Homo sapiens: one gene and its partners. The protein of the gene in region 2 interacts with the protein of the main gene of each other region in a biochemical or structural test. Each region holds a gene or a part of one and is shown on either strand. Other genes may lie near its edges. The genes, in order: YAP1, NEK1 and LRRK2.

What was found.
Region 1: of the proteins of NEK1 (region 2) and YAP1, one has a biochemical effect on the other in vitro, tested with the Homo sapiens proteins (one study listed by BioGRID).
Region 3: the proteins of NEK1 (region 2) and LRRK2 interact on a protein array, tested with the Homo sapiens proteins (2 studies listed by BioGRID and IntAct, with this or other methods).

Annotation. Positions count from the first base shown.
Region 1 is NC_000011.10:102,207,867-102,211,523, reverse strand, and holds part of YAP1 (transcriptional coactivator YAP1), read right to left. Parts: intron 2,008-3,657; coding exon 1,960-2,007; intron 1-1,959. UniProt on the Homo sapiens protein: Transcriptional regulator with dual roles as a coactivator and corepressor. Critical downstream regulatory target in the Hippo signaling pathway, crucial for organ size control and tumor suppression by restricting proliferation and promoting apoptosis.
Region 2 is NC_000004.12:169,476,428-169,480,084, reverse strand, and holds part of NEK1 (serine/threonine-protein kinase Nek1), read left to right. Parts: intron 1-550; coding exon 551-682; intron 683-1,704; coding exon of another isoform or gene 1,705-1,713; exon of another isoform or gene 1,714-2,561; intron 2,562-2,587; coding exon 2,588-2,653; intron 2,654-2,732; coding exon 2,733-2,961; intron 2,962-3,657. UniProt on the Homo sapiens protein: Phosphorylates serines and threonines, but also appears to possess tyrosine kinase activity. Involved in DNA damage checkpoint control and for proper DNA damage repair.
Region 3 is NC_000012.12:40,318,841-40,322,497, reverse strand, and holds part of LRRK2 (leucine-rich repeat serine/threonine-protein kinase 2), read right to left. Parts: exon of another isoform or gene 2,523-3,657; intron 2,511-2,522; coding exon 2,323-2,510; intron 1,465-2,322; coding exon 1,310-1,464; intron 464-1,309; coding exon 317-463; intron 180-316; coding exon 1-179. UniProt on the Homo sapiens protein: Serine/threonine-protein kinase which phosphorylates a broad range of proteins involved in multiple processes such as neuronal plasticity, innate immunity, autophagy, and vesicle trafficking.

The DNA of each region.
Region 1 (3,657 bases), on a different chromosome or scaffold from region 2:
ATGCCAGGTAAATATTAAACACTGACAACTAAAGCATATATAACAAACCAATATTTTAATCTCCAGCATATGCAAAGAAGATTTTTAAAAACCTCTTTCAAGTTTTTTGCTCTGGTCTGGGCAAATCTGAGTAATTACCTCTAATCTTCGTATCTTAGAAGCTTTACTACTAATAAGCCTCACCTTTTCTAAAACTTTACTATTTTAAAAAATCTAAGAATTCCTGATAATTTTAATAACAGTAAAGATTTACTTTTCTATTCAAGTATGAAACAAAGATCAAGAAGAATTTGACTTATTTATCAGATTCAGGGTATAAGACCTTGGGAAAAAAGGAAACAATTTCAACATTTTTTTGGCATGGAGGACTTTTTACCTGAATCCAAATCTCCTTTGAGTTAATTTCTGCTCCTATATTAGTTTCTATTTCATTTATCATGAATAAAATTCTTCTTTCAGAAACACTTCAGGCCAGACGTGGTGGCTCACGCCTGTAATCCCAGCAATTTGGGAGGCTGAGGTGGGCGGATCACGAGGTCAGGAGATCGAGACCATCCTGGCTAACACTGTGAAACCCCGTCTCTACTAAAAAATTCAAAAAGAATTAGCTGGGCATGGTGGCGGGCGCCTGTAGTCCCAGCTACTTGGGAGGCTGAGGCAGGAGAATGGTGTGAACCCGGAAGGCGGAGCTTGCAGTGAGCCGAGATCACACCACTGCACTCCAGCCTCGGCAACAGAGCGAAACTCCATCTCAAAAACAAAAACAAAAAACAAAAACAAAAAGACAAAACAAAACAAACACTTCAGAGAAATGGCAAAGAAAAAAATGGCTTCACGTTATAAAGACCCAATGCTATCCTGCACTTCACAGTCAAATGGTATATTAGTGCCCCCTCATCATAAGAATGTCTATGCTCAACTTTGGTGAAGATGGCTTATTATTGAGTTATCCCTTGCTTGGTCTTTTGATTAATGGTGGCATTTATGAGATAGATAAAGAAGAATAGAGATTTTCCCTCTCACAAAATTAACTGGTTTCTATGAAGACTGTATCTGACTTTTATCATCATGGTGCTCCAACGGACAACTTAACAGTATCCAAAATGAGTAGAATTTTGCCAACTCCTACTTCTACAGCAGATTCTAAAACAATGTACTTATTTAGCATAGTGCAGAGTAAGTTACATAGAAGGTGAGGCATTATATGGTTGCTTCTGCCCCAAGAGAAGTAGAATGATCCTCTGGCTCCGAATTTCTTCTAATCTTGTGGACCTCAAACACCTAAAATCTTTTTGGTTTTAAGAACGAGATTCTTCCCACGAGTCAGACAAGTGCCTGTGTTAGAAGAAAAATTGGCCACAATCTTTCCTTCTAAATAAGATGCCTTCACAACCAGGGCTCCCTGGGGTTCATCAGAGAATGCTGATAAAAGCCAACAAGAAAACCTGAAACACTATCCAGGCAGATACTCTCCTGATAATTTTGATATTTTTCCTTTGGAATGTCCACTAGAAAGAATTTTTCTCTTCCTCATAGTATCATGACTCTAAAATTTCCTAAAGTAGCCTATCCAAGTAAATACTGCTTTTGTTACTGTTCAATTTATTAATTCCTTTAAATCATTACACATACTATTTTAAGCTATTCAAATAAAAATTAGGCATACCTAGCTGATAGGATGTACAACTGAGACACAATACATTTAAATATAGAATAAAAAAGACCTCCATGGAATCAAAATAAACAGAAACTCCCTAGGAGGAGCAGGGAGGGAGCAGACTGTGTAGACTTTCTTGGAAGGGCAATGTTAACCTGAGTATCTTGGTAGAAAGATGGCTCAAAGTTATTCTCTGGGCTAATGTCCAATAAGGACAGGACCCTGGAATGTAAGTTTCTCTTTCCTAATTTAATATCTTTTTTTTTTTTTTTCCAGTGCTAAAACATCAGATAAGAGCCTACCTGACATTTTGGAGAATTTGCTGTGCTGGGATTGATATTCCGCATTGCCTAAGAGTAAAAAATAAGACGGATAAAAATTACTTTAAGCCACATGGTCTGGCTGTGTAGGCTGACTTACAAATTGTATCCAGACATATCACCATAGCACAGAATTCCCAAGCTACCCAAGAAGAAGCAGACTGACGAAGACAGGAGCCAATGGAGTCACCACATAACAAAACTGGAACCTCAGAAGTTTTTAACAGCATTGAGGATAGGACAGCAAGACTTTAGGAGTCAGAACTAAAAAATAAAATTTGATATTGGTCACGTAGGTTCTTTGTTTCTGAGTATTAGATAAAGCAGATACAATATATTTGATGTTTCAGTGCTAAGATAAACTGTCAAGGGAAGAAGTTCACAGGAAGCCAAAAGACTTAAGATATACTGAATTTATTGTGATTACTTTAAAAAAATCTAAAAATAGTCTATTAGTATGAGAATAGAGCAGGTCTGTCAACTTCAACATAAGAAAAGACGACACAGTAGGCAGTAAAGATGAAACAAAGAAGTTACCTTTAAAGGAAGTGAAGCTATTCTGTCCAGGACCCATCACCCAGAGTAAGTTTGAGAATAAAGATTTAGGAAAATCTTTGGAAGGAAGAGTTTTACAAATAGCAGCATTTGCCCACCAAAAAACCCCAGGATGATCTATGGCATAAAACAAAATGGCGAATGGCCCCATTTCTAGACTTTACAAATTATCTTAAAAACAGTATGGTTTTGACATTAGTAATTAAAGAACTTTTTTTTTAGTTTCTTGATTTTGACAGTTTTTATTCATAGTGAAATTGAGACCTGTATTTACTTAGAACAACTACTACTCGGCAACAACAAAATGAAAAACAATGAAAATAGGTTACATAAAACATATTTTAAAACTGCTCTTTTTTTTTCTATTAGCCATGTAATTATATTTTTGATGGTTCTAAGGTGTTCTAACAATAGTAGACGAAAAATATTCTTCCTTTATGGTAATTTGTTAGAAAGTCAGAGGTACAATAATGCTTCCTTTCTCCATCCTTTTTTATGTCAGATAAAGAAACATTTCTTTCAAGATCACTTTATAGGGGCCAAAAGGAAAACTTCCCCTCTACCCTCTAAAGGTTCGCTGAAAATGAACTGATAATAGACAAATTAACAGGAGAAAATGGCAAACAAATTTATTTAAGGTGCATAAGCATGGGGGAAATTGCAAGACAATTATTACCCAATAACCAAGTGAGTTCCAGATACTATATAATACCCTTCTTCACAGGGGAAGGGGACATGAGGGAAATGACGCCATTTTGAAGGGCAGTAAATGATTTTTAGGAAGAATGAATGGGCCCAGTACACAGACAATGGTTAGTAAATAATTCTCTTTGGAAACTGAATGGGATCTGAGAACAGACAATAGTCTGGGCAAAGTTCCTCTGAGCTCTCTAGGTGTGATATTTAATTTTTAGTCTTTTCCTCTGTCATACAAGTTTCAGGCTTCTCTGGTTAATGAAATTTTGAGGAGGGGATCAAAGGCAATTGTATTCCTTTTGGTGGGTCTGGTTTCTAGGCAGATAAAGGAACTTCAAGGAACAGCCTCATCCTGTGCTTTGGCATAGAACTTGAGGCTGCTTCCTTAGTTTGTCAAAGAACCATATTTTGGAGTATCATTTTCTGAGC
Region 2 (3,657 bases):
ATCTTACTTTGTTTAGAGTTTAAATGGCAACATAAAAACAAGCACATATGTTAATACAACATGATGTTTTCAGTGAAGTAAATCTTATTACCTGGATCTGTTTCTCCTTCCATTCTCATTTATGTTGGCATTTTTATGAGGGCTCTTATGTTGAGTAATTGATATTTGAACTTTGAGAAGATTGTACCCAAACCTGCAGGAATTACAAAAGCATTTCTTTTAGAAGTGTAAGATTAACAAAATCTTACACTTGAATCTTTAAAAGACAGTTTTTCAGGATCATTTCATGAAACATTGATAATGCAATGAAAGCGGGTTATTTAGGACTATGTGACATGACTATGTGTACATCTGAGACCAGAGATTTTTTTCTCTAGTCACTGCTGTATCCCCAGCATGTAGCATCATAATGCCTTGCTCAACAGATAATTCAGGAATGAAAAAAACTACTTGTGGATAGAGTGGATAAATAGTGATCTGGTAGGTACCATTTTATTTCTTCATACAAATATAAAATCCCTAATGTATTTAATAAAATCCTTTTTTATAGTTGGTGGCTAAAGGAGTTAAGAGTTCTGATGTTTCTCCACCTTTGGGACAGCATGAAACAGGTGGCTCTCCATCAAAGCAACAGATGAGATCTGTTATTTCTGTAACTTCAGCTTTGAAAGAAGTTGGCGTGGTAAGTTTCCTAAGATTCAGAACTCCTCAAAGTCAAAAGATTATTTAAAAGGAAATTAAATTTAATGAAATCACATTAATCCCTAATGTCCCTTTCAGGTTTTTCTAAGGAAAAAAATTACTTTTTAAGGGATTTTAGTTTACTCAGAATACTGGAGCCTCATTGTTTATAAGTTTTATATCTAGGACCACGTGGTAGATGAAAATATATCACAATAACTCTTATATTACTTTAAAAGAATATTGAAAAAATAAAATATACAGAGAAATGTACTGAAAATAATACTATAAACATTTTTCTACCCAACCCTCATGATTAACAAATGTTCACTTTAAAAAGAATAATGTCTCTTTGGTGCTAAAGTAGCTCTAGGTATTAGGTCCAACACATATTTACATTTATTCAAATTTTGTGACATGGCAAATGTTAGAGGACTCAGTAGAACTAGTTAATTCATCAGTTATTCCTTTTACCTTCTACTTCTGAATCTCTGTCATGCCCTACAGATAGTAAAACAAAGAAACATAGACAAATAAAAAGCTTAAACTTAGAAGTATATTTCAGGTATCTGTCTGAAGTGTGAAGACTGTTCAGGGGTTAAGAGAAGTGGGCTCATAGTGTGGAGCTGCGGCCTAGAATTCAACAGACAGGAGGAGAAAAGTCTACTGAATCAGATAACATAATAACTTCATTTTCCCCTTTCCTGGTAATGGATGTCTGTGCTTTTTATTTGTTTAGTTTCAGTAAATATTTGCAGACAAAATTGGTACACTAGCTGTTTTTTTTTATAGCCTTTGGGTTGATTTTGAAAATAAAACTCAGTAGGAAAATATAAGTTTCTTGATCATTCTCAAGAACTTCATGTAAGAAACTATTGTTCTTCAAGTAGGCTTAGTCACTTTTTCTTTCTGATAACGACTTTGCGTGTGCCACGTTGTTACTCCAACTTTAGATACCACTGTGTGGTCCCTCCTTGGTACCCAGTCTCACATCTCAATAGCTGTTCATCTCTCTGGTTGTAGGACTGCTAATTCCTGACTACTTTACTGGGTAAAATGTTCTTTGTCTCATTGCTTCATATATTACTTTGAAACTGACCACCAAATTTTTAATTTTTTTTAAGTATTACAAAATTCGAGGTAATCCATATAACTGAACGGTTTTCTTTCTGTGTTGTGTTGGTAAATGTCACTTACTTAAAACTTAGAAAATTGTTCTTTGAATCTTCTACATGCCTTTGCTTTCATAGCTTTCGTAACTGCTAATTTCTTCTTTTCGTATGTTTTTTAATTTTAGATAGTCTGGATTGCTTTGACAATGCTAATTAGGAGATAACATTTATGTCATTTGTAGTACAAATGACTCAGAACTAATTTTTGTTACACTCTTTGTTTAGGGAGGAAAGCCACTTCTCAATTACATTTAGTACTATGGCTTAACAAGGATATATATACATGAAACATAAAGACAGTTTTAGAATAACACAGCCTATTTTGAATTACTTCATCTATCAAAACTTTTTCTAGTTATAATTAAGAGAGTATATGAATTTTCCTCTAATTTCTACTTTTTCCTCTAATTTCTACTTTTTCCTCTAATTTTCTGACTTAAATTACCAAAAAATCAGGTACCAAAGAGGAAGAGGATATAGTTAATTATGTGAGCAGTAATCTAAAAATATGACAAATAATTGAGAATTGGCCCCTGTCTATGTTGTCTAATTAATAATATTTAAAGGTTAGTCATTGCTGATAATGAAGGAAGCTTTGTTAACATTTTATAGGAATAAAAAATTTACAAGGAACAAATTAATGAAAACCAAAAAGTAACGAGGATGTAATATTTTTAAAGGTAGATTTAAAAAAATAAAATTATCTCTTCCTCTGTATCTATCTGCATTTAAAGGACAGTAGTTTAACTGATACCCGGGAAACTTCAGAAGAGATGCAAAAGACCAACAATGCTATTTCAGTAAGTAAAATTTTCAAAGTTTATCAATCATTTTACTTAATGATATACATATTAAAATATATAATGTCGTGACTTTCAGAGTAAGCGAGAAATACTTCGTAGATTAAATGAAAATCTTAAAGCTCAAGAAGATGAAAAAGGAAAGCAGAATCTCTCTGATACTTTTGAGATAAATGTTCATGAAGATGCCAAAGAGCATGAAAAAGAAAAATCAGTTTCATCTGATCGCAAGAAGTGGGAGGCAGGAGGTCAACTTGTGATTCCTCTGGATGAGTTAACACTAGATACATCCTTCTCTACAACTGAAAGTATGTATAGTAGTATATTAATATCCTATTTAGGTCTAGTACATATGTAAACTTATAGACTAACCACTCTGAAAAAAATGAACACTTAGAAGAATTGAGAGAAGCTGAAAGAATTCTATATATTTTCCTTTTGGGCGAATAGAAGTGCCTCCCTCTCACAGTGAAATGTGAAGAGCAGAGAAAACTAATCAAACTAATCAGCCTTAATAGCAAGGATTTTTATTACAAAAGTGTATAGTGTGAGAGAGGGAACTAATGATACATATTTAAATTGCATTACTTTAACTCTGTATACCATGTTAAATTAATCTGTTACTATGAATAATTCTTGATGAGAACCAGGGTAGTGTCTCAGAAACATCTCTTAGGCATTTAGCGAGAGTATTGAGAAAATCTGACTTAATGATTTATATATTCGGTGATAATTACTGAGAATCTATATTTCTTACATTGTTCTAGGAATTGGAGATATAGGAACAAAACAGAAACATATGTGCTCTTGTGGAGCTTACATTCTAGAAGGGCAAGTCTGACCATCAACAAATCTGATTTTAAGTAATTTTTTTCACAGACTGTTTTTGTAGAATTTTTTCTTGCATTGGAAAAAAGCCCAAAGACTTGATAGCATTTATTTTGCTTATTTATTCAACAGTTCTTTATTGGGTACCTACCATATGTAATACACTCTTAAGCAAT
Region 3 (3,657 bases), on a different chromosome or scaffold from region 2:
CTTCATCAAGTCATCAAGTAAGATTTTTTGATGTTCTTCACCATCATTAAAACTATATAATGCCCATTTCTTCAACAGAGTTTCTCCTTCACCACAAATATCAATCTCCAGCAACCCAGGAAACCATTCTTCCATGAGAGAATCAATGTGGTCCACAACTTGGCCCAAAAGAATACAGCCTACATGATTCAAAACAGAGCTCAACACCTTGTCTAAACCTCATACTGTCGCAAAGCTTTAAGGTAAAGTTTTTTTTTTTTTTAAGTTTAAATTTCTTTAGTGTTGCAATTGAAAACATTCAAATTGATTTCCTTACCTTTTCTACAAGAAGGAACTGTAATTTTTAAGAAACTCTCTGGATGATTGTCTAAGACTTCAGATCCTACCAGACAATAAGCTTCAGGAGACCAATTTAAGTAAATGCCTTGTCGCCAATACATTCTGTTTGGGCGAAGTGCTCGTTCTAAAAAATGGAGCCATTAATTATTAACTGCTTCCTAAGTTAAAGGGAAAAAATCTACTGCACACAACACAAGTGATTGTAATACAGATCTATTCATTTTGAAATAAAGTATTGGGTTGTTACTGATATGAGTCCTCATCCATATCTATTAAATATTTTATCCACAACTTTACAATAAAAAGAGTTAAATCCCCTGCACATTAAGATCCATTTCAGGTTGATGCTGTTAAGCAGTTTAATATGCTCGACAGATGAAGAAAGAAAATCATAAATAAATCCTCATAATTTTTAAAAAGAAGTTTTTGATCATGCTAAACGCAAAACTTTCTGAACTTTTTAATGCAATGTAACTACCTATATGTTGATTAATTCCAATCAAGGTAAGGTTTATTTTGGAAACCAGTAACACCTGTGTAAAGCTAATTTTAATCCCCAAAATGATATTTTCCCTTTGGAGTACCAAAATGTCTCTATTTATTTTAGAAGAAAGAGTTAGCATTATAAACACCGGATTTGCTCTTTTTTTGTAAATGTCTTAGTGGCTGTGCAACAGAAAAGAGATAATTACAGTCCCTACAATGTAATCACAGTCAAGATCTGAGTGAGCACCTAAGGAATTTTCTTCCTGACAAATTAGATGAGGTTATATGTGCTTGTGTGTCTTTAGATTGCCTACTCCAAGGTTTTATGAGCTTATTTTCTAATTCTTCAGCTGCCTTCCAAACAAGTAAACTCTGAGAAAATGGCATATTACTTTTCATATGCCATCTCCCTAATTTCTCTAAAAATTAATAAGTCTAAATTAATAGTCTCTAAAAATCTAATAAGTCTTCATTAGATACTTACCTCTCCCTGAAAGCATGTAAGGTGAAATCTCAAGTAATCGATTGATTAATCTTGACCAAAATCCCATTGGAAAATAAGGCATTTCATATAGTCGGATGATAATTTCAGAGTTCTCACAATGGGGAAGCTCTATCACAGGCCTGTGGTCAGACAAACTAAAGGCAAAAGGACACTATGGTTATACAGCCTCACAAAACACCCAACCTTGTTGAGCAAATGATTTTACTGCTTAAAGTCAATGAAGGTAATCATTCCAAACAATTGTAATCTTTTTGTAACATTGTTTCACTACATATTTTTCCTACACCAAAAATTCAGTGGTCAATAACCAATTCAAATGCATGCTCAGATGTAGATGCATGAAATATTTTCGGTAATCCCTGTGCACTAATACATAAATTATTACAATTAGTTATGCATAGACAAATGTAATCTTATATAAATCCTGAAAAATACATGTCCTAGAAAAAAAGTGTATATTTATTTTTAAAATTGGCTGCATCCATCAATCAATGTAATTTGCACATTTCAACATCATATTACTTTATAAATTTCCCAGTTGCTTAGAGCAGTAGGAAAAATTTCCATAGTATAGGCTAAAACATAGGCATCCATTGTGATGCCATAAATGCTTTTAAAATTCTGTTGAAAACTCACTATCTTCTCAGAACTTGCTTAATAAACTCTCTCAGTGTTGTTTAAGAACACACACATACACAAACACAGACACACACACACATTAATCTCCACTATTTACCTTTCTTAAATAATTTCAACAGTGATAAGCCAACTAGTAACTATACACATAAAGTAAGTGATTTACTATATTGTTAAAGTGTCAGATGCAATGTTTTATTCCAAAATAAATGATACATGTCAGTAGGAGGTTTACACTAGAAGCAAAATATATTTATTTATTTAATACATCTATTATAGACTACAGTTAGTTTGACAATTAAAAGAATAGATAGTGAATTTCCATGTAGCAATTAATTTTTTAAGGTTTTCTTTACCTGCTTGGAACCAGCAAATATTCTTCTCCTATTGGCAAAGCAATCTGGAATTTTTCTAGGAGCTTAAAATACTGTGACATGTAGTTCTTTGGAAATTTCCTTTTTTTTGAAAGAAATTTTTCCACATCTCTACGCGAAATAATGCCCTTAGGGTGTTTTGGACAACCTTCCACTTTCACTGTCAAAATCTGAAAGATTCGAGTCATAAATAATCACTAAAATTTATTTTCTGAAATGTTGCAAATTTAAAGCATTTTATGTCTCTTTGCTCAGTGAAAGTAGTCAGAAAGATTTTAGTGTTTTCAAGTGCAACACAGTACCTAATTTCTCTAGCAACCATGTGGCCTAGAAGCCCAGAGGGGCATTCACTCTCAAAAAAAAAAAAAAAATTGTTAAATTAAGGGAGTTAATTCGGATAGGAAATCATTGAACTTCACTGAAACAATGAACATCAGTATTTCCCTAGCTACAATGGAAAGATCAATCCAATACCTCACATCTGTTTTGCAGTCTCATCAATAATATATTCCCAGGAAAATTATCTTCCAGACAGTTATCAATACAGGTTTGAAATAGAAATATTACTTCACATTTATATACTAGGAGAGGACTTCCATGAATAGGAAGACAGACTGTGTAGCAGAGTTTCATGATTCTCAAAGTAACTACTGCATTTTGATGGATTCTACTTGCAGTGTCTGGGTCAGTAGGTCTGGGTTGAGGCCTGAGAATCGGCTTTTTTAAAGAGCAACCCCGATGTTTCTAACACAGAGATCACACTTTGAGCTTTGATCCTTGTCATGGCAGTTAAAAATCAGTCAGAACCCAGATTCAAATCCAGGCTCTACTACTAGCTCTGTAACCTTGGGAAAGGTATTTGATTTCTTTACTGCACAGCTTTCTTCTCTATAAAATGAGATAATAAAAGTGACTGTCTTAGATTGCCCTGAGAATGAAATAACACATGTAAAGTACGCAAAGTACATATGACAAATTTTAGCATATTTATCTATATATTCCAATTTATTTTGCTTTGTCAAATTCACTTTAAAAAGAGGTTTGTATTTAATTTTCTTTGGGAGATCTATAATGTTTAAGGAATACTTAAACAGAAGCAAACATTATTTATGCTATCATGTAGTTGAGTGAAATACCAGGTTATAAAGTCCTTAGGCCCAAGGACTTGTCTTACCCATTTCTGTATTTCTATTTTGTATGTACAGTATTTATTGAATCAATGAATGCATGGTTGATTGAACATATTGGTATTTAATGACAGTGTGCAATGGGCCTATAAATAATAAAAACTGTTGTTTAAGACTTCTCCCATGTTGT